7 linked regions of the Homo sapiens genome follow. The protein of the gene in region 1 purifies or fractionates together with the protein of each later gene. This does not show direct contact. Each region holds a gene or a part of one and is shown in the gene's direction. Other genes may lie near its edges. The genes, in order: AMOT, KSR1, USP9X, TEAD4, PPARA, ATF1 and METTL17.

Region 1 (3,500 bases):
TTACTTACTACCTGCAGGTTGTCGCTCATTCATAGATCTCATCTTCTCACTGAGTAAATTGTTTCCATTGACTGAGATTCTTCACTACAGCACCTAGTACATCAGTTCATTCTCTCATATTCAGCCTTTTTTTTCACTGGTACTTTATTGTGACTTACTAAGATTTAAGCAACAGCTCCTGGATGCTCTGCTGTATCCATTTGGGTGTGCAGAAAAAAGAAAAAACATGTTTTAAAAACTGTAGCACACCATCCCTTGTTTTCCAACTCAGAACTAACTAGATCAGCCTTTAGTCGAAAAGATAATGGGAGCTCCACGTAGTCATGTAGTCAATTAGACCAAAATGTGGAGGTAGCAAGAAGGTTTTTTTTTTTTTTTTTTTTTTTTTGAGATGGAGTCAGTCTTGCTCTGTCACCCAGGCTGGAGTGCAGTGGCACTATCTTGGCTCACTGCAACCTCCGCCTCCCAAGTTAAAGTGATTCTCCTGCCTCGGCCTCCCGAGTAGCTGGGACTATAGGCGCCTGCCACCACACCCAGCTAATTTTTGTGTTTTTAGTAGAGACAGGGTTTCACCATGTTGGCCAGGCTGGTCTCGAACTCCTGACTTTGCAATCCGCCCACCTCGGCCTCCCAAAATGCTGGGATTACAGGCGTAAGCCACCGCGCCCAGCCCACAACAAGGTCTTTATATGTTCTTTGCCTTTGGCTCCTAGGATTAAGACCCTCCATGCCCAGATTATTGAGAAGGATGCCATGATCAAAGTACTCCAGCAGCGTTCCCGGAAGGAGCCGAGCAAGACAGAGCAGCTGTCGTGCATGCGGCCAGCGAAGTCTCTGATGTCCATTTCCAATGCTGGATCAGGCTTGCTCTCCCACTCATCCACCCTGACTGGCTCCCCCATCATGGAAGAAAAGCGAGACGACAAGAGCTGGAAGGGGAGCCTAGGTAATGACAGTAAATAAGGAAGATTATAGTCACGTGTTCAAAGAGAGCCCTGAGATAAGCACCCATGCTTAAGGAAAAGGGATGATGGTCCAGGTTCTAGAGAGGAAGGTGTACCAGGGTTTTGGAGTTTTTTTTTCCTCCTGAGACCCTAGTTCCACATTCTGGAGCTCCTCCACACTTTGAAGTCTCCCGGTGAGAATACCGATTGAGGCCAAGGCTTAGAGGACAAGAATCTTGAGTTTCATTTGGGTGTCAAGGAAGATAACTCTAATTTCCTCTAAACTATTCTCAGATTTGGCCTTTGCCATGTGGCACCTTTATCTTTCTCCAAAGCCCATGTGGCCTTTGTGTCGTTCCAAATGTCAAAATTCCGGCATTTCTGTGTTCCTTCCTCCTCTATAATAGGAGAACCCAGAGTTTTAGTTACACTAAATCGTTTGGGTAGCAGGTTTTGTTCCCACAGTGTTGTGAGATGAGAACAGAATGTACTTTTTCATTCCGTTCCTGTCCATTCCCTCCCCTCTAATCAAAACCCCAGACATATTGTGGATACCACGAGGCACATTTTTAGAGCCCGAGGAAGGAAGCTTATATATATTTTTATTTTAACCCTTTTTGTTGCTGTTAATTCCTTTCTTGGTCCTCTGATACTTGTAATATCTTTTGGTTAGAATAAGCATTTTGGGGACTATGGTCATGGTGAGAACCTCAGATCACACAATTATTACCACACTCAATCTGTGTCAACAGACTTCTTCCCCAGATCCTTTCTTGCTCCCTGGTAACGTGTGGTAATGGTTTATAAGTGGAGCCGAGTAGGAGCATTCTGACAACTTGGTGGAACCCAATCACCATTGGAAAAATAAATCAAAACAGATACCCAGGTCACTTACAGGCTTAATATGTTGTGCCAGGTGATGGATGAGGACCAGAAGGGATCCTCGAAGTCTGTAGGAAACTTTTAGCCATGGTTGGAGGAGCCTCACACACTGATTTCTGGGTTCCCTGGAGGCAAAAATAAATAACTTAGACTATTCTAAATTATTTAATATTTAAAAATAATAATATTTTAAATATTTAAATAATATTTACTTATTTAAAAATAAATAAATTTCTTCTGAAATTTGAATGGGAGAACAGGTAATTAGATGTCTGGATTTGAATCACCTATTGTTTTCTAACATCTGTTCCTCTTTCATTTGTAGGCATTCTCCTGGGTGGAGACTACCGTGCTGAATATGTCCCTTCCACACCCTCGCCTGTGCCACCCTCGACTCCCCTGCTCTCGGCTCACTCCAAGACAGGCAGCCGAGACTGCAGTACCCAAACTGAACGTGGGACGGAATCGAACAAAACTGCAGCTGTTGCTCCCATCTCTGTTCCTGCTCCAGTTGCTGCTGCCGCCACTGCTGCCGCCATCACTGCCACTGCTGCCACCATCACCACCACCATGGTAGCTGCTGCTCCAGTTGCTGTTGCTGCTGCTGCTGCTCCAGCTGCTGCTGCTGCCCCGTCTCCAGCCACTGCCGCTGCTACTGCTGCTGCTGTTTCTCCAGCTGCTGCTGGTCAGATTCCAGCTGCTGCCTCTGTTGCCTCAGCTGCTGCCGTTGCTCCTTCTGCTGCTGCTGCTGCTGCTGTTCAGGTTGCTCCAGCTGCTCCGGCTCCAGTTCCAGCTCCGGCTCTGGTTCCGGTTCCAGCTCCAGCAGCGGCTCAGGCTTCTGCTCCTGCTCAGACTCAGGCACCAACTTCAGCTCCGGCTGTGGCTCCAACTCCAGCTCCAACTCCAACTCCAGCTGTGGCTCAGGCTGAGGTTCCTGCAAGTCCAGCTACCGGTCCTGGACCACATCGTTTGTCTATACCAAGTTTGACCTGCAATCCAGACAAAACAGGTAATTATTCCCTTTAGCAGGTAGGTTTTGGTTTAGTTCTGCTCTCAAATACAGATTTATTTCTTGTTGTCTGATGTCTGGGCAGAGTTATCATTTGGACTGAGTTTTTCACGTTCTAAAGGAGAGAGAAGAGAGTCTGTAAATGACTTCTCATCCACCAAGATGGGAACAGGCATGAGTAGAGGCCATTATCTTAGCAGAAGTAAATGAGGGAGGTGGCAGGCAAGTCTCACTTTGCCATTGGCTTCATGAGGGCTCTGATGGTGTCTGGTTCTAGAAATATGGGTTTTTTCTTCATCCCTAAGTGTTTTCTAACCCTTATTTCCATTTAGATGGGCCTGTGTTCCACTCCAATACTCTGGAAAGAAAAACTCCCATTCAGATCCTGGGACAAGAGCCTGATGCAGAGATGGTGGAATATCTCATCTAAACGGCCAAATCAAGAGCTGCAGATTATCAGCAAAAATGCTTTTAATCATTTTCCCCCTTTTATTGGTTCTTGTTTTGAGGGTGAGGACAAGGGTTGTGGGGAGGGGATGTTTTTTAACAGGACTTTTTATTGGAACAATGTACTACTTGAGTAATACCATGTGAACACCAGTCTATTTTGGTATGCTTAGGGAGTACCTCTAAAGACAGATTAATCAGAATGTGCTCTAAAGCTT
Region 2 (3,244 bases), on another chromosome or scaffold:
CTCCTAGTACAGTCCCAGGAACATTATAGTTGGGCACTAAATATTTAATGTGCATGAATGAATGTGAGCAAAGGGTGATACCATGCCAAGTGCTGTGATAAAGCCCAGATGGGGGCCTCTGCATCCACCTGGGGGACAGGAGGAAGAGTCTCTGGAAGAAGGTCGTCAGGGCTGGGTTTTGAGCCAGAACTATCCCAGCAGAGACCAGGAGCATGGGGCTCTTAGCAGTTCAAGGAGGGTGATGTGAGGCAGCGAGGCCAAGCTCTAATCAGACCGTGGGCAACTTGCTTAACAAGCTGGGCCCTGGTTTTCTCCGTGACGAAAGAAAAGGCTCCACTAGGTGGACACTGGCATTCAGAACATCATTCCAGATTCCCCAAAAACCATATAGTCCCACCTTCTCATTTCACAGGCAGGAAACTGAGTCACAGATGGGGCTGTTCCCTGCCCAGCCCCTTCGAGGAAAGCATGCGGGCTTTCCTTTCCTGAATGAGTCTGTGTCAAAGCTTCCTGTTCACAGTGTTTACTTTCTACACGCTTGCCCCCTAATTCTCACTTTCTCTTTTCTTTCCATTGATCTTGTCACTTTTTTATTTTCGGGGGGTGGCGGATGTGCTGTTCTGTCATCTCCCACTTTCCCATCACCTGATTCCTCCACCTGTCCACACGTGCCTGACTCCATCACATGCCGGGGCCGGACTGCGCTCTTCCCACGCCTGGTGGAATGGTCGCTGGGCACTCCCAGTCGCTGGAGGAGCCGCTACTATGGAAAAGGACGCTACGGCCACCCTGACTTTAAGAGCTCCTGTCCGATTCTGGAGGAATAGTGTGTTCCTGTTACTTCCTTCGCTGGCTGCCTGTCTCTGGTTTTCCTGACACAAGCCCTGCTTCCTTTCTGTCGCCGCTTCCCAGCTTCTCCCATCTTTGTGTCATTTATTCTCGCAAACCAAAGTGAGGTTTCTGCAGCTGAAATGGCTTCCAGCAAGGGTCACACAGGCTTGCATTTTTCGCTGGGTGAGAGAAGAGCCACAGCATGTGGCGGGGCCTTTGTCCACACCATGAGTGAATGGGTGGCTTGTCCCTGGGTCGGAGAAAATTCTGGTCATTGATTTGAGCCCCCAGGATCCCAGTCCCCCTGGCCAGAGCTCAAGAGAAGAGAATCCAGTTAAGCAGAAATACTCTTGGAAGTAGATTTTACTCGTCAAGGGCTAAGGAGCTGTGGGCATGTTCCATCCTCTTTATAAACGTGCTGCAACTGTGCCCTGCGGGAGCTTAGAGAGGGTTCTTTGTGCCCAGGATCCCTTCTGAGCATGCAGTGCAGCCAAGCCTGGGGGATGGAGTCCAGGATGGCCCTTTCTCTCTGGAAGAGAAAGGGAGTCCCCTGCCCAGCTGCTCTGGCCAGACCTCTAGCTCCCGACAGGCTCTGCATTGGGGCTATGATTCTGATGCTGTTCTTTGCTTTCTTCTCTTTCCCTCTGTAGGTTGTAGGCCTGGCTGCCTTGCATGCACCAGGGGCTTTCTTCCTCCTAATCAACAACTCAGCACCGTGACTTCTGCTAAAATGCAAAATGAGATGCGGGCACTAACCCAGGGGATGCCACCTCTGCTGCTCCAGTCGTCTCTCTCGAGGCTACTTCTTTTGCTTTGTTTTAAAAACTGGCCCTCTGCCCTCTCCACGTGGCCTGCATATGCCCAAGTAACTGCTCTCAGAGGATCCCACTAACTGAGCTCCCTCCAAGGCAGTCTGGGCAGCTTCTAACTACCTTCCTGGACATGACTGATTGCTCCCGTGTTCTTCTGAGGGCTGGTCTTGTTTTTGTTTGGGTGGCTCTGTCTCACTGCTAACACCTTAGTGAGATGCCTTCCACCCTCCTGAGCACACCAGCCTCCCACTGGGTGTGTGCCTAGTGCGGGGCGGGCGGAGGTTGGGAGGGTGTTGGCTTGGCTTTTAACCTGTGGGGATTTTGTCCAACAAGGAGTGGAATGATTTCAGAGCTGCCCTGAGGCTGGCACCCTGGTCACAGGAACCCTCTGCGCTGGCTCCTGTCTCAGTCCCCTCTGTAGAGTTAGATCAGAAGACACAGAAAGTTCTGTGGCCATGAAAGATACCAGCTTGGAAGGGTTGTGTCTTCAGTGGCACCCTCAGAAAAATTGTCTTAAAGCAAAGAGGTACCTGGCTCCAGACAATTTTTCTGATGAAAACAAAGTCTCTGCCCCGTCCCCACCCTGCCACCCTGGCAAAGTTACTTCCTTTACAGCTGCCCAGTGTACCATAGACCAGACCCCAGGTCAGCATTTGTCAAGAGCATGGCTGCTGAGTCCCCTGTGGCAGTCAATGCACTGTTTACCAAATGCAGGTTTCTGTTCTCCCTCCCCAGCAAGACCTGCTGAACCCAGATCTCTGGAATGGGGCCCTAGGAATTTGCATTTCAACCTGCTTCCCAGGTGGCCCTGATGCACCCCAGTATTAGAGTTTATTGCTAAAAGGAACATGCCCTGTCACTCCTGGTATCCTGGGAGTCATGTTTCTCTTCTCTCTCAGTTCTACTTGGAGCAAGAGCTTTCCTGGGCTGCAAATGAGAAAACAATTCCTAGGAACCCACAGCAGTACTGAGCATGCTGGGAGCTTGGGACTTGGAGATGAATGAGCCACCGTTGCTGCTCCAAGTAGGACTACTTGGAGTGTAGCTGAGGCCTTGGACGCAGTATGACCAGGGGCAGCTCTGCCAGGGCTGTTGGCCAATCAGTCATTTTCATTTCTTGTTGGAGGCCAGGTCCTCTGCTGAACTCATTTCCTAGCTAGTGTTACCCTAATTCTGATGAAGATCAATGGGGCTATAATTCTTGTTTTTGTTCCTCTTTGCAGCATTAACAGCAGCAAAGTTGTACCCCGGTTTGAAAGGTTTGGCTTGGGCGTCCTGGAGTCCAGTAATCCAAAGATGTAGCCAGCCATATGGTTTTTCGCTGCTGATCTCTTTCTTTTTAAAATGTGTTTCTGAAACATCCCAACAACCACCACGACAAAAAAACACTGCCTGCCCAGCGCTGCAAACCAGGAGCACACGTCCTAGATTCAGACTGTTGGCCATAAACCCCACTCGGGAGATGGAGCTGCACCTGCTATTTCTTAAAATGACACCACCAACAACCAAACCTGTCATGACAGACAGCAAATGTTTACACGTATATTTCTCCTGAGTGAACCTGATGTTTTACAATAGGTAATAATAAAAACAGTCTGTGC
Region 3 (3,500 bases), about 72 Mb from region 1:
CACCTAGAATAATACTGTTTATAATAACCATTTGATTACCTGAATGGGAAAATCTGGGGCAGTATTTAACTTGCAGTACCTCCAACCTCTTGTACAGAATTGATTCATCTTCATTTTATGGCACCCTACAGTTTATTCTTATTAATCATGTGAGCTTTGAACACCATGTTAGTCAACCATAATCAAAGGAATTGTTTTCCTTGGGATGAGTTTGAGCTGGTGATCGTGCATATTAGATCCCATCTTCTACAGAGCCTGTGAATTGGGTGGAAAGGAAAAAGGGAGTGGCGAAGCCTCCTGTTAGTATCCTTGATGTCCATTTTATTCCTGCTGACTTTGGTGGCTATTGAGAGTTATAAGTTGAGGCTGTTGGTTACATCTCTCATTTCTAGTCTTTTCTGTTAACTGGTTACTTAGAACTCCTAAGTAAGGCCGCTCATTATTAACTTGGACCCCAGAGAGCATGGAAGTTACCGTATAGTATTGAACCCATTTCTGCCTAACAGTGTTTTCTCTCTGGTCGAGGTGTAGTGTACAAAGTTTTGGTTGCTCTGCTTGGTAACATCTCTGGAGTTCAGAGCACAGGGATCAGTAAACTTTTTCTGTAAAGGGCCACATAGTAAATACTTTGGACTTTGTGGGCTAAGAGGCAAAATTGAGGACATTGGGTAAAATTTTTATTGGTGAAATAAAAAATATAATTAAATACAGTTATGTATAACTTAGGTCTAATGAGAAAAACAATTTGGTGTGTGTGTGTGGAGGGGAGGTAATACAGTATTTTGCTTTATTGGGTAAAGTTCAGTGTTCCCTGTCATCAAATTGATTGCAGACGTTCTGTGTGAAATCCATTCTTACCTTGTGAGCTGTACAAAAACAGGAGGCTGGAATTGGTCTGTTACCATAGTTTGCCAGCCCCTAGTTAAGAGCAGTGATTTTTTTTTTTAAGAGGAGGGGTCTCGCTGTCACTCAGGCTGGATTGTGGTGACGCAATCATAGCTCATTGTAGCCTGGAATTCCTGGGTTCAAGGCATCCTCGCACCTCAGCCTGCCGAGTAAGTAGGACCACAGGCCGACATCACCTCACCTGGTTAATTTTTGTTAGAGAACAGGGGTTTGACTGTGTTTCCCAGGCTGGTCTCAAACTCCTGGCCTCAAGCAATCCTCCTGTTTTGGCCTCCCAGTGTTGCTGGGATTATAGGCCTGAGCCACTGTGCTTGACCTCCTATTTGATACACTATATGTTAACAACTCTGAACCTCCTTTCCTTAAGTCAGGTTCAAACTTCTGTACATTAGCTGATGAAAGGGATTTCTTTTTATTGCAAGGTGGTATTGCCTGAGAATAGTTTGGTTTCAGCAGCTTTGCTGTATTTGTACGGCAGTATCTTGTGTTTATGTGCAAGTTCAGATGTATTTTGCCTTTTTATAAGAATGAGCAGAAAACAAAAAAGTAAATGGCGCGATCTCGGCTCACCACAACCTCCGCCTCCTGGGTTCAAGTGATTCTCCTGCCTCGGCCTCCTGAGTAGCTGGGATTACAGGCATGCGCCACCACACCCAGCTAATTTTGTATTTTTAATAGAGTTGGGGTTTCTCCATGTTGGTCAGGCTGTCTTGAACTCCCGACCTCAGGTGATCCGCCTGCCTCGGCTTCCCAAAGTGCTGGGATTACAGGCATGAGCCATCATGCCTGGCCTACCTGGAGGTCTTAAATATCCTTGAGACAGAGGGAACTGGTTAGGGATATGAATCTTAAACCTTACTGGATTAGGTTGTGCTCATTGGTTAGGTTAGTTGGCTTTGTGCAAATAGTGAATGCAATAATTAGAATGAAATAGGAATTAAGTGAGGCAAATGTATGATGAAGTTTACATTTGAAAGGTGAGGGTATAATTAGAAATAAAAGTTTCTGTACTCTGTGAGTGGGAAAAACCCCTAAAAAGGTGACTGTCGTTTTTGAAATTTTTGACTTCTCTCACATTTTCGGGAATGTGAAAGGAGGATACTGGCTATGTACAGCATTTGTCCAGACTTTTGAAAATATAGAAAATCTCATTTACTCATTTAATTAGTGTGTATATTATCTGTTTACTGTGTCCTTTGTAGATATAATTAATTATCCAGGATTCTTAAGAGTTGACTTGGAGCATGCTGAGCTGAGGCAAGAGGGATTGTGGGGCCAGACTGAGTGTTGGAGGAGGAACCTACTGTAGTGACTACAGGTGTATTTCTTTTTTCTTTTTTTTTGAAATGGAGTTTCACTCTTGTTGCCCAGGCTACAGTACAATGGCGTGATCTCGGCTCACTGCAACCTCCGCCTCCTGGGTTCAAGTGATTCTCCAGCCTCAACCTCCTGAGTAGCTGGGATTACAGGTGGGTGCCACTATACCCGGCTAATTTTGTATTTTTAGTAGAGATGGGGTTTCACCATGTTGGCCAGGCTGGTCTCGAACTCCTGACCTCAGGTGATCCACCTGCCTCATCCTCCCAGAGTGCTGGGATTACAGGTGTGAGCCACCGTGCCTGGTGTGTTTCTTGTCTGATGTCAGTGCATGTCGTTATCTGAGCCATATCAATGTCAGCTGAGGATTGCTTTGTTATCCTCGGTGCATTATGGGAAGGAGAATCATGTCAGTGCTACCTTACTGTGATTGAATTGAATTCATTGATTTAATATAGATTCAGTTAGTACGCCTTATCCATAATATTTGGGATCAGAAGTGTTTCCGATTTTGTAATTTTTTCCCCATATTTTGGAATATTTGGAATATTACTTGCGGGTGAGTGAAAATTCAAAATCCGAAATTTGGGGCCAGGCGCGGTGGCTCACCCCTGTAATCCCAGCACTTTGGGAGGCTGAGGCGGGCAGATCACTTGAGGTCAGGAGTTCGAGACCAGCCTGGCCAACATGGTGAGACCCCCGTCTCTACTAAAAATATGAAAATTAGCCAGGCATGGTGGTGTGCACCTGTAATCCCAGCTACTCAGGAGGCTGAGGCTGGAGAATCCCTTGAACCCAGGAGGTGGAGGTTGCAGTGAGCCCAGATCGCGGTACTGCACTCCGTCTAGCCTGGGTGACAGAGCGAGACTCCGTCTCAAAAAAAAAAAAAAAAGTTCAGATTTTGGAGCATTTTGGATTCCAGATTTTTCAGATAAGGGATGCTCAACCTGTGCCATTTTAGGCACCAGAGGGTATATAAAGATGATTCTCTGCTTTCAAGGCTCTGAAGTATGGTGAACCAGACAGTTATACAGTGCAATTACAGCTGTATTAAGTGGAGGTGTGAAAAGTGTAGTAGGAGAGATGGAGAAATCATTGTTTGGCATTGGGTGAGGTCTTCAAAGATGTCCTATTTTCATGGCCCTATTAATTAGAGCAGGGACTTCCGGTCAGAGGGATCAACTTGAGATCAGGCAGGGTTTTTTAACCCTATTGACAGTTTGGGGCAGATAAGTCTTTGTTGTGAGGTGCTGTCCTACTCAGCCCTGGCTTCTACC
Region 4 (3,500 bases), on another chromosome or scaffold:
GCCTGTTAGCATTCACTAGCTAGGCGAGGCCTCGGGCTCCAGCCTCTCCTCCCAGTGGAGGCCCTGCCCGGTCCTACCCCCACCCCCACACCACAGGGCCCCGGGTGCACCTGGGGCCGTGCTGATTCCATGCCTTTTGCCTCCTCAGTTTTGGCAAGGAGCTTTGCCAGGCCAAGCCGGAACGTCCCATGAGTGAGTATGGCCTCTGGTTTCTCTTGCCAGTTGCTCCCTGAACTGAACTTGAACCCATAAACTCATGGCATTAAGCCTGGGCCCCAGGGTGTGCTGGGGCCGCTGCTGGGGTCGGCCTTTCAGGATGGCTCTGAGCTCAGGGATTGGGCTCTTCTACTGTCAGCCATCACTGGGCTCATCTGTGATGTCTACACCCTAGGGTGGTATTTGCCAAAACTCCAGTCTGTCCAGGGTATAGGCAGGGCCAGAGCTGGGGTCCCCCAGGGGAGGAGGCTGGGAAGCAGACCTCTGGCTGGCCTGGGAGGAGGAGAGGGAGGGGTGGATTTCTTCAGCAGACACGCTGTGTCTGTGGACCCGCCACGAAACCCAGGGGAGTCGGCAGGGGCGGGAGTAGGAGGCCAAGGCCCATCGGGACCACTGAAATCCAGACCACCAGGACCTACCACACAGACCACTGGACCCAGTGCAGGGATCCGGGGCGGTGGCCTGCCCGAGGCTGACACCTCCCCTCCTCTCTCTCCCGCAGTGTGAAGCCTTTCTCTCAGCAAACCTATGCTGTCCAGCCTCCGCTGCCTCTGCCAGGTGGGTGGGCGCTGCGTGGCCCCCTTTCTATCGCAGCCATGTGGCTCCTGCCTCTGGGTCCAGGCCCCCGGCAGCCGAACGCCTGCGTGTCCCTGTTAGATGCTGCCCCGTCATGCACACTGACCACACGTCCTAGTCCCTGGCCACACCCCATTCCTTTCCCCCAGCATGCACACCTCAGCCGTGTGCCAAGCCCCTTCATGCCCCTCGGGTTGCCTTGCTCCTGTCCCCTCAAAGCTGTGCTCAGGGCTTGTGGGGCACGTGCAGTTCCAAGGGCAGTGCCCGTGCCCTGGCGGCTGCCCCACTTGGCCGGCCTTGTTACTGCAGTGTGCCTCACACACCTGGTCCTGGGAGGGCCGAGGGGTGTCTAGCTCACCAGCCTGGAGCCCCTCCCGAGAAGAGGGACCCTTGTGGGAGAAGACCTGGTGGAGGCAGCCAGCGGTGCTGACAGGAGCCCCCACCCCGCCCTCTCACTGACAGGCTCTGCTCTGTCCTCGTCTCTTTCTCAGGAGGGGCCCTCACCACCTCCCACTCTGTAGGACAAGACCAGCTCCTCACTCTTAAACTGCCCTTTCTGGTGTGGAGTCTGCCTGCCCGGCCCCTTGGCTTTCCCTGCCACCAAGAGCAGCCCTGCTGCCTTCTGTCCCCCAGGTCCTGAAGGCTGCTTTCTCTCGTTCACACATCAAAACAAAGTCACAGCGTCAGGTCCCGTCCACCCTCTGTCTCATGCCAGTCTTCTGTCCACACTGACCATGTCTTCACTCCAGGCCTGCTGGCTTTTGCCTGCGTTCCTGCAGCAGCCTCTCCACCGGCTCGCTGTCCCGTCTCACCTCCTCTCGTCACCCTGTCACTCACCAGAGCTTCAGTCTCACGGTGTTGCTTCCAGGTTTATGGTGCCTTCCTGGCCCCCTGGTGCCTTCAGGACACGATCTAAACTACAGTAGGACTGGAGTAGGTTCATCTGTTAGCAACGCTGGATTGAGGGGCTCTTCTGGGCCAGGCCCTGTTCTGGGAGCGGGGGAGACACATGTGATGCAAACAGGAAACGTCCCCGTCTCTCCGGGATGATGCCATATTGTAATAGTGGATTCATCTGGTTATTTCCCCGACTGGAACAGAAGTTGCTTGAGGGCAGGAACTTAACAGTGCCTGTTCTGGAAGCCTCTCGGTCCTGCAGGGCCCCAGCTGCCCTCCAGAATCCAGTCTTGCTCGGCGGTTCCATGCAGAGTGCTGAGTGGCCCGAGTTGTACCAGGCGAGCCCCTCCCCACCAGGGCAGCTCCAGGATGCCCTGGCCCAAGCCTGGCACTCCCTCCACCACCTCTGCTAGGAGGTCCATTTAGGGAGACAGGCGGTCCCCCCAGGCAGCACGGGTCTGTCCGAGGAGGCCTGGGGTCCTTGCAGAGGGTGCGGGCAGGGCGGGTGTCCGTGACCAGGTTCCATGTGCCTTTCTCACTTTGTGCAGGGTTTGAGTCTCCTGCAGGGCCCGCCCCATCGCCCTCTGCGCCCCCGGCACCCCCATGGCAGGGCCGCAGCGTGGCCAGCTCCAAGCTCTGGATGTTGGAGTTCTCTGCCTTCCTGGAGCAGCAGCAGGACCCGGACACGGTAGGTCCTGGCCTCTGCCTGTCCAGCTCCCTGGTCACCCCCTCTCCCTCTGTTTCTGCTTCCGGCAGTCTTGCCCCACTCCATGCTGGGGCTTAATTCAAGTTCCCTGTTCCTTTCCGATCTTCCCTTCTGCCCTTCCCCCCACTCCTCCTTTCCTCCTTCACGTCACCCCTCTTCCCTCTTTCCCTCCTCCCTGGCTTCCTTTCCGTGTCCCAGCGCCCAGTCAGCGTCACGCTCCTCCCTCCCTGTCCTGTGTTCCTCCTCCCCTCCTAACCCAACCGACCCTTAGTCCAAGGTTGCTCTGGTCCCAGCCCCACCCCTACACTGTCCCAGCCTCTCTCTGGTTCTGAGAAGCGGGCAGGAAGCTGAGGAGTCTCCTGTGTCTGCTCCATATCCTATGGGATACCAGCCTGTCCCCTTCGGTGTCCAGTGTCCTGGGTGACCAGCGTCACCTGCAAAGGTCAGAGGGGGACCTGGAGGAGGCCAAGGTGACAGGATGCCAGGGCCCTTCTCACTCTGACATCTTCAAACTTCTTTTTTTTTTTTTTTTTCTTGAGACAGAGCCTCACTCTGTCACCCAGGCTGGGAGTGCAGTGGCATGATCTCAGCTTACTGCAACTTCCACTTCCTGAGTTCAAGCGACTCTCCCGCCTTAGCCTCCGGAGTAGCTGGGATTACAGGTGCCTGCCACCACACCTGGCTAATTTTTGTATTTTTAGTAGAGACTGGGTTTCACCATGTTGTCCAGGCTGGTCTTGAACTCCTGACCTCAAGTGATCCACCCACTTCGGCCTCCCAAAGTGCTGGGATTACCGGTGTGAGCCGCCGCACCCGGCTCAGACTTCTTTTTAGCTGAGGAACCCATGAACCAAATAGACCTTTACTTAGAAGTCCAGGATGTAAAACAAAAGGAGTAGACTTTTACCATCTCTATTTTACTCATGGGGAAACTATGGCCCAGAAAGGCCAAGCGGCTTGCACCAGGTCACGTGGTGGGCACGCAGAGCCAGGGTTGTCTGTCTGACCGTCTGGCCTGTGCTCCGTCTCCCTCAGACCCACTCTCTCCACAGTACAACAAGCACCTGTTCGTGCACATTGGCCAGTCCAGCCCAAGCTACAGCGA
Region 5 (3,500 bases), on another chromosome or scaffold:
GTGGTTTTCATTAGCTCCTGTTTGTCAAACTTATGAACAGAGTTTTAAAAATTGTGTATCAGCCGGGTGCGGTGGCTCACACCTGTAATCTTTGGGAGGCTGAGGTGGGCAGATGACAAGATCAGGAGTTTGAGACCAGCCTGGCCAATATGGTGAAACCCTGTCTCTACTAAAAATACAAAAATTAGCTGGGCATGGTGGCGGGTGCCTATGGTCCCAGCTACTCAGGAGGCTGAAGCAGGAGAATCTCTTGAACCCGGGAGGTGGAGGTTGCAGTGAGCTGAGATGGCACCACAGCACCCCAGCCTGGGTGACAGAGCAAGACTCCGTTTCCAAAAAAAAAAAATTGTATATGAGAGAGACAGAACTAGACAGAGAAGAAGGAGAAAATGTGTCTTCTTTATACACTATTTTGTAACTTGCTTTATCGAGTAGGTTATGAAAAATCTTCCTATGTGAAAAACATTTCTGCATCATTTGAAATGTCTATATAATATCCCATTGTGTTTAGATACAATAATATTTAGCCAATCTCTTTATGTGTATATATTTAATACAGTCATTCTATAAATATTGACTGAGTAGCTGCTGTGGGCTACTGTCCGCAGTGCTGAACAAGACAAGCATGAATCCATGAAACTGATTTTCATACCAGAATATAAAAAAGAAACTTAAAGATAATCCTCATCATGGTAAAAGATGAAGAACCTATTTTTGCCGGGACATCTTACTCTTTAGTAATTGGTGGCCAGTGTTCTTTTTCTTGCATGCTGTTTTGGAGAGTCTGTTTTTTAAATAAATATTTAAGTAGCCTGGGCGCAGTGGCTCACGCCTATGGTTTCAGCACTTTGTGAGGCCGAAGGGGATGGATTGCTTGAGCCCAGGGCTTCAAGACCAGCCTGGGCAACCTGGCGAAACCCTGCATCTACTAAAAATACAAAAATTAGCCAGGTATAGTGGCGTGTGCCTGTGGCCCCATCTACTTGGGAGGCTGAGGTGGGAGGATCCCTTGAGCCTGAGAAGTGGAGGTTGCAGTGACTGAGATGGCACCACTACACTCCAGCCTGGGTGACAGAGTGAGACCTGGTCTCAAAAAATAAATAAATATTTATGTAATCATCTTTAAGCAGTGTTTTTAATTTTATTTATTTATTTATTTATTTTTGAGACAGGGTCTCACTGTGTCACCTAGGCTAGAGCACAGCTGCATGATCACGGCCTATTGCAGCCTCGACCTCCCTGGGCTCAGGTGATCCTCCCACCTCAGCCTCCCAAGCAGCTAGGACCACAGGCACACGCCACCAGGCCTGACTCATTTTTGTATTTTTTGCAGAGACGGGGTCTTGCTATGTTGTTCAGACCTGTCTCAAACTCCTGGGCTCAAGCCATCCTCCTGCCTCGGCCTCCCATAGTGCTGGGACTAAGCCATGAACCACTGCACCCGGCATAAGTGGTCTTTCTTTAAAAAAAAAAAAAAAAAAAAAAAAAAAAAAAAAAAAAAACCACATTAATTAAAATATGTATTTGCTTATTATAAATATATTTGAAACATGCCAATTTTTCTTCTCTTTTTTTGCTCTATTGGTTTCTGTGTGTGGATGGATATATTTTTAATGGCAAATAGGATGAGTGTCTTTACTTCCAAGTAGTCAGTGTTTTTCTTTAATGTTTGTACTAATTTTGTCACATTGCAGTTAGAGGTTGTGGCCTGTCTAATTTCTGCTTTTTTGGAACTTGAGAGTCTCTGTTTTTATTTGTTTTTGGTAGCCTGGCATAGAGTCCATTTTTCTTTTCTTTTCTTTTTTTGAGACGGAGTTTAGCTCTTGTTGCCCAGACTGGCGTGCAGTGGCGCAATCTCAGCTCACTGCAACCTCCGCCTCCTGGGTTCAAGCGATTCTCCTGCCTCAGTCTCCCCAGTAGCTGGGATTACAGGTGCCCACCACCACACCTGGCTATTTTTTGTATTTTTAGTAGAGACGGGGTTTTGCCATGTTGGCCAGGCTGGTCTCGAACTCCTGATCTCAGGTGATCCACCCGCCTCGGCCTCCCAAAGTGCTGGGATTACAGGTGTGAGCCACTGCGCCCAGCTGTAGATACTTTTTAAAAAGGTATAGTTTCTGATTATGGGGTAGAAATGTGCTATGTCTGTCATTTCAGCCTTATGAATTGCCCAGAATAAGCTAGATCACCTTTAAGGCCATGTGGTTAGGGAAACTTGGGCACAGAATTTACATTTTCAACTTGGTGATAAGATGGGTTTAAGGTAAGAATCAAATAGGAGAAAGCCTTAGCTGTTCCAGCGGCCCATGTTTAAAAGAATGTGCTTCTTTTTCCAAGTATTTCTGCCGCTTGCATGCACTGAGCTTCTTTGGAAAGGAGCACCATGCAGGCATATTTTCCAGACAGGACCGGATTTGCTCGTTACTCAGAGGTGTGTGCATTCTTTGCTTTTAGGATATTTAATTAGCATCTTTTAATAGTGATATTACGGTGTCTTAAAAGTTTATGCATTTGAAAAGAAAAGAACTTACTCCTTGCCAGGTCTCAACCTATCATGGTTATCTTTGCAGCTGAGCTGCGTTGGTTTTGAGGCTCACATATGGTAAAAGTGGTTGGAAATCTGGAAATATTGCTGTGTATCTGCAAAGCAGCTTGATATAGTGGAAAAGGTATTAGGTCATTAATCATGAGATTTGGATTCTAGCCCCTTAGCTGCTGCCTGCCAGGCCTGGAGACCTTTGTTCTCTTCTTTAAACTGCTGCTTTCTCATCAGAAAATGAAGTTCCTCTCCATACCACCTCTCTGAAGGGCTGTGAAGCTCGAAGTGGCAGCTTAAAAAACTGCCCATCTCAGGAGGTGTCTTAAGAAGGAGGACATACCGCTGGCTCCTGCCTTTCTCACTTAGCCAGGTCTGATACCTGTGTTGTTTTCACTGTGGCCATTTTAGGATTTTTCAAAGGCTTTCAGAAAGCAACATGCTACCGTACCCCTTATACACCAAAACTGGTTTTCATTTTGGAATATAAAAGTGAGATTTCTCCACCAGTACAATAAAGTTGTTACAAGTGGTTCCTATGTGTTTGTTTTTGTTTTTGAGACAGAGTCTCACTCTGTCACCCAGGCTGCAGTGCAGTGGCACAATCTTGGCTCACTGCAACCTCCGCCTCCCGGGTTCAAGCAATTCTCCCACCTCAGCCTCCTAAGTAGCTGGGACTACAGGCACCCGCCACCACGCCCAGCTAATTTTTGTATTTTTAGTAGAGATGGAGTTTCACCATGTTGGCCAGGCTGGTTTTGAACTTCTGACCTCAGGTGATCCACCTGCTTCAGCCTCCCAAAGTCTTAGGATTACAGGCGTGAGCCACCACACCCGGCCTCCTGTGTGTTTTGAAGGTGATTGTGACCTCAGGTTTTGGCAGGGCTATACCTTGTGTTTGCTCTTACTCCAACTCCATGGCATACCTGGACCAGGCCTCTTCATCTTGAAGAGGGATCTGCTG
Region 6 (2,781 bases), on another chromosome or scaffold:
AGGCATGAGCCACCATGCCTGGCCAATACTTCCGATTTCTATATGTATATAAACTTACATATGACTTCACAGAAATGTTTTAAGAGGACATGCACAGAACTGAGTATTTGCTCAAGCATTGTTTGTAATTTGAACTTAAATAAAAGAAGTCATGTGTCAGAAGTTAACCAGAGGACCCATAATTTCACTCTTTGGTATTTATTCAAGAGAAATGAAACCTTTCTACAAAAAGACTGGCACAAAAACATGCCTATGCAGCTAACCCTAGAAACATCGCAAGAGACTGGATACACAAATGGTGGTTATATTCATACAGTGAACTATGTCCAGCAGTGTGAAGGAACAAACCCCCATGCAGCAACATGGATGAACCTCAGATGGGCTGAGTGAAGGGACACCAGAGTACATAGTGTATGACACTCTTACATGAGGTTCTAGAATAGGAAAAAAACTAATCTCTGGTGATAAAAATCAAAACGATAGTTGCTTGGAAGGGGGCTGACCAGGAAGGGGCATGAGGGAACTTTCTGGGACAGTGGGAATGTTCTGTTGTCTTGACAGAGGTGTGGGTTATACAGGTATACACAATTGCCAAAACTGACTGAATTCTACACTTAAGATCTATGTATTCTCTGTGTGTAGATGATACTTTAAAGAGAAAAAAAGGTGACCACGGAAAATTACTGAAGAACATTTACCATTTAAAGAATGTGAAGTTTTTTCTAACATTGTTTTTTTAATGCTCATATTTAGAGAAGCTGCTCGAGAATGTCGCAGAAAGAAGAAAGAATATGTGAAATGCCTGGAAAACCGAGTTGCAGTCCTGGAAAATCAAAATAAAACTCTAATAGAAGAGTTAAAAACTTTGAAGGATCTTTATTCCAATAAAAGTGTTTGATTCCTAAGAAAGAAAATATTTTTGTGGACATGCATAAAAATTAAATGGATTTCCTAGTGGAGTTTTATAAATTAAAAGGTCAAAACTGAAGCTTTTTATTTAGGCTTTTCCAAATCAAGGATAAATATCTTACGCACGATATCTAGTGACAGAGGAGAAAGTGGAAAATGACCTCAAGGAAGCTACGGGCACAACTGGAAGCTTTGTAGAAATTAAACATATTCAAGGAGCAAGAAATGAACTTTCAGCAGTCTAAATTTTCTAAATAACCAATAGTTGCCAATCTAAAATGGCAGAGAAGATGAAATTTGATAAACTGAATTTTTTTTAAAAATCCATTTACCCTACAGGTTTGCATTTGTTTGCTGAAATTTACCTTTTTTTAGTTATATATATGTGTGTGTGTGTGTGTAATTTCTGCCAATAAATTCTAAATTACAAAGGTAAGAGAAAACCTAGTACATTACTAAATATATAAAGTATATGTTCTGATTATGTATACTTGTTCTAGTGTCAAGTCTTTTTAAGTGGGTTTTTAAAAGTTTGTTATTGGACTTGAATGGATTTTTGAGACTAGGTTAATTATTTTTGAGGTCTTATCCTAAAAGGCATCTAAGGTACATGAATGGAGTATGGTGATTTTATAACATTTTTTATCAGAATGGAAAAAGAACTGTTTAAAAGTTTGATACTTTTAAATAGTTGGTTTTTTTGCTTACTCTGGTAATGATTTTCTACAAATACATAATAAATTGTTTTTTTGAGTCTATATTCTGTATGCAGTTGAATATCCATTACTTATTCTGCTGTGCTTTAATAGAATGGAATGTTTACAGGCCCTTAAAATATTATTTTTAAAAAACCTTCTGAAGATACATACCAAAGTTTTTCCAAGAAGATTTTATAATCAATTTAATAATGTAAGGTTTATCAGATTCTATAATAGTATAGTTATTAAGGCAATTTTATGTTAGAGACTATTTTGTAATGTAGTGAGTGGTACCTTTATAAGAAAAGTGACTGCCAATATATTTTTATAGCTGATCTTTATAAATTCTAATGTTGAGTTTTTAATGATTATTTTAAATGTTTATATAGTTTAGTAAAATTTGCATCTCAAAGTATCATTTTTATATTATGGGACGTTTTCAGATTGGCTAATATTTGCATTGTAAATTTTGTATGCAGTTTATCTAAAATTCAAAAATACTGTCAGTACACCAGCGTTTAACATCTATATTCCAATTTGTATACAGTTTAAAATTGTACTGCAAAACTATTGTGTGCTCTTACACAGTATGCATCATATTGTTGTCTGTGAAATTAAAGGACATTTGATAGTCTACTGAATGTAAAATATAATGCTTGGTATATGAATGATAAGCTTGCTCCTGGCCATGCTGTTAATTATCCTAATGCTACGTAGAAATCTTCACTTAACTGATACATTTGTGTTTGACCCTCCTGATGAAATTTCTCATTAGAAGGGTCTTTTAAAATGGGACTCTGTTGACTTGGCAGCACTTTATGAAAAGAAAAAAAAGTTTGATCGCCAGGGGGATTACTTATATCACTTACTACCTTGTGTAAAGCCAGAATCTCAAACTGGTGGCCCGTTAGGCCTAAGAATATGAGGAGGTATGAGGTCACTGGGTTATGTCAAAAGACTTTTTCAACAGATGATAATATATTATTGGGTAGACACCGTGCTTGTTTACAACAGAGGTAGCCTAGCTCTTAGTGCCTTAACAGCTGGACATCTGCAAATATTTGTAAACTCTGCTGCCTTCAGACTTCTGGTGTAGGGCCTTGCTAACTAGACCCAGTTACTTACTCTAGCTGTATGAAACAGGTCAGGGCAAACCATTAATGGTTCCATAAAT
Region 7 (2,278 bases), on another chromosome or scaffold:
ATCCCATAAGGTATTTGTATTGAATCTCAAAAGGCATTCACATCTCACATCCTCTGTGATAGCCTCCTAATTCACATTTATCAAGGTCCTAAATAAGTATCTAATTACCCTACTGTGGGATGTTGTATATTTCTTCAGATCCGGGCTCGAAATCCAGCATTTCAGCCACAAACTTTGATGGACTTTGGCTCAGGTACTGGTTCTGTCACCTGGTGAGTAACTTTCTTCAGCCCTATCTTGGTCAATTTTAGCTCTAGAAAGCCATACTTACACCACTCCAAAATTAACAGACTGGAAAACCAGAGGGAGAATAGGCAAGTTGGGAATCTATAATGTTTCTTCCATCAGATTAGGCAAGGCAGAAGAAGGTATATGGATTGGGGCCAGAACTTAAAAGAAATGTCAAGTAAAAAAAGGCGCATGTGTAGAAAAATTAAAAAGAAAAGGAATTATCAATCAAAGTTGTTTTTGCCTACAAATAGTATTTTGAGTCTACCTTTTTTTTTTCTTTTTTGAAACGGTGTCTCACTCTGTCGCCCAGGCTGGAGTGCAGTGGCACAATCTCGGCTCACTGCAGCCTCCACTCCTGGGTTCAAGTGATTCTCCTGCCTCACCCTCCCGAGTAGCTGGGACTACAGGTGCACGCCACCACACCCAGCTAATTTTTGTATTTTTAGTAGAGACGGGGTTTCACCATATTGGCCAGGCTGGTCTCTAACTCCTGACCTTGTGATCCGCCCACCTTGGCCTCCCAAAGTGCTGGGATTACAAGCATGAGCCACTGTGCCCAGCTGAGTCTACCTTTTTTTTTTTAGGAGTTGTAAATAAAACAAGAAAATAACACTATTAGTTATTTTATTACTAACTATACAACTACTTTAACATAACACTCTCTTTTCCCAGGGGTGGGGTTGGGTGTAAATGGGCCTCTTGTAGAGATGACTCTTGGTCATGGGAATTGGTGATTTATAATAATTTTGCCATCTTAGGGCTGCTCACAGTATTTGGGGCCAGAGCCTACGTGAATATATGTGTGTGGACAGATCAGCTGCCATGTTGGTTTTGGCAGAAAAACTACTGAAAGGTGAGTGCAAGAGCACTTCCAAAGTTGAGGGAGTTAAGAAAGCAAAGGGGTACTAGTAAAAGTGTTTTACTGGGAAGTAGAGAAGAGGGTAAAAATTAAGATGAATCTGGTTTACTTTTAAAGTTATAGTCAAGCAAAGGGTGGTATTAGAGGTTTCTGCTGGACTGAGGATGGGTTGGGTAAGAATCAAAGGACAGGAGGCCTAATATTCTCCCTGCCCTTTTTTTTTTTTTTTTAATTAGAGGTAGGGTCTCCATATGTTACCCAGGCTGGTCTCAAACTCCTGGCCTCAAGCCATCCTCCCACTTCAGCCTCTAGGGTAGCTGGGATTACAGGCACGCACCGCCATACCTGGCTCATCCCTGCCCTTTTTGATATACACTTTACCTATTCTTGGGGCCATGTTTCTTATCTGGATATCTCTTCAGTTTATACCTAACTTCCTACACACTCACAGTTGCCTCTTCTTTTCTCCACAGGTGGTTCAGAATCTGGGGAGCCTTATATTCCAGGTGTCTTTTTCAGACAGTTTCTACCTGTATCACCCAAGGCAAGTGGCAGTGTTTAGAATATTCTAAATGTGGAATGTGGCAGATGGAAAACTATGGCTTGAGCTTTGCAGCCCAGCACTGAGTGTTAGAAGATAAAAGAAATTTAGCGGCTAGGACTTTGTTGTATTCTTGGGATGTAGAGATGTTGAGTCTGTCATGTTCCTTGTCTTGGTCCTCAGGTGCAGTTTGATGTAGTAGTGTCAGCTTTTTCCTTAAGTGAACTGCCCAGCAAGGCTGACCGCACTGAGGTAGTTCAAACCTTATGGCGTAAGACAGGTCATTTCCTGGTGAGTTAAAATTCCTTGTTCTCCTTAAGTCTTGAAGCAGCTTCATGGATTTCATGCCTTTGCTCCTCTCATTGTCTTTATTCTTCACCATTTTTCTCCTTCATGGGTTTCTTTATCCCTCTTTGAGGGTCTCCATCCTGATTATGTAATGCCTATTTCTTTTTAGGACTCCTTCTCCCTCTATGATTGCTCTTACACAGCTACTGACATTTATACTTTCGTGTAATTCAAGTCTTCTGCATATTTTCCCCTTTTGTGAACAGGTACTGGTGGAGAATGGAACAAAAGCTGGGCACAGCCTTCTCATGGATGCCAGGGATCTGGTCCTTAAGGTAAGGCTTCTTCTTCCCTCACTC

The links.
Region 2: the proteins of AMOT (region 1) and KSR1 purify together in Homo sapiens (co-immunoprecipitation; one large-scale study listed by IntAct). This does not show direct contact.
Region 3: the proteins of AMOT (region 1) and USP9X purify together in Homo sapiens (affinity purification with western blotting; 3 studies listed by BioGRID). This does not show direct contact.
Region 4: the proteins of AMOT (region 1) and TEAD4 purify together in Homo sapiens (co-immunoprecipitation; one large-scale study listed by IntAct). This does not show direct contact.
Region 5: the proteins of AMOT (region 1) and PPARA purify together in Homo sapiens (co-immunoprecipitation; one large-scale study listed by IntAct). This does not show direct contact.
Region 6: the proteins of AMOT (region 1) and ATF1 purify together in Homo sapiens (co-immunoprecipitation; one large-scale study listed by IntAct). This does not show direct contact.
Region 7: the proteins of AMOT (region 1) and METTL17 purify together in Homo sapiens (affinity purification with mass spectrometry, with the first as the bait; one large-scale study listed by BioGRID). This does not show direct contact.

What each region holds. Positions count from the first base shown.
Region 1 is NC_000023.11:112,778,332-112,781,831, reverse strand, and holds part of AMOT (angiomotin), read left to right. Parts: intron 1-713; coding exon 714-946; intron 947-1,043; exon of another isoform or gene 1,044-1,114; intron 1,115-2,151; coding exon 2,152-2,835; intron 2,836-3,167; coding exon 3,168-3,265; 3' UTR 3,266-3,500.
Region 2 is NC_000017.11:27,620,448-27,623,691, forward strand, and holds part of KSR1 (kinase suppressor of Ras 1), read left to right. Parts: intron 1-745; coding exon 746-826; intron 827-1,481; coding exon of another isoform or gene 1,482-1,488; exon of another isoform or gene 1,489-2,866; coding exon 2,867-2,945; 3' UTR 2,946-3,244.
Region 3 is NC_000023.11:41,091,945-41,095,444, forward strand, and holds part of USP9X (ubiquitin carboxyl-terminal hydrolase 9X), read left to right. Parts: intron 1-3,500.
Region 4 is NC_000012.12:3,018,397-3,021,896, forward strand, and holds part of TEAD4 (transcriptional enhancer factor TEF-3), read left to right. Parts: intron 1-148; coding exon 149-192; intron 193-718; coding exon 719-774; intron 775-2,237; coding exon 2,238-2,377; intron 2,378-3,447; coding exon 3,448-3,500. UniProt on the Homo sapiens protein: Transcription factor which plays a key role in the Hippo signaling pathway, a pathway involved in organ size control and tumor suppression by restricting proliferation and promoting apoptosis.
Region 5 is NC_000022.11:46,153,526-46,157,025, forward strand, and holds part of PPARA (peroxisome proliferator-activated receptor alpha), read left to right. Parts: intron 1-3,500. UniProt on the Homo sapiens protein: Ligand-activated transcription factor. Key regulator of lipid metabolism. Activated by the endogenous ligand 1-palmitoyl-2-oleoyl-sn-glycerol-3-phosphocholine (16:0/18:1-GPC). Activated by oleylethanolamide, a naturally occurring lipid that regulates satiety.
Region 6 is NC_000012.12:50,818,882-50,821,662, forward strand, and holds the end of ATF1 (cyclic AMP-dependent transcription factor ATF-1), read left to right. Parts: intron 1-753; coding exon 754-898; 3' UTR 899-2,281; downstream 2,282-2,781.
Region 7 is NC_000014.9:20,992,980-20,995,257, forward strand, and holds part of METTL17 (ribosome assembly protein METTL17, mitochondrial isoform 2 precursor), read left to right. Parts: intron 1-138; coding exon 139-212; intron 213-989; coding exon 990-1,084; intron 1,085-1,563; coding exon 1,564-1,634; intron 1,635-1,814; coding exon 1,815-1,922; intron 1,923-2,185; coding exon 2,186-2,254; intron 2,255-2,278. UniProt on the Homo sapiens protein: Mitochondrial ribosome (mitoribosome) assembly factor. Binds at the interface of the head and body domains of the mitochondrial small ribosomal subunit (mt-SSU), occluding the mRNA channel and preventing compaction of the head domain towards the body.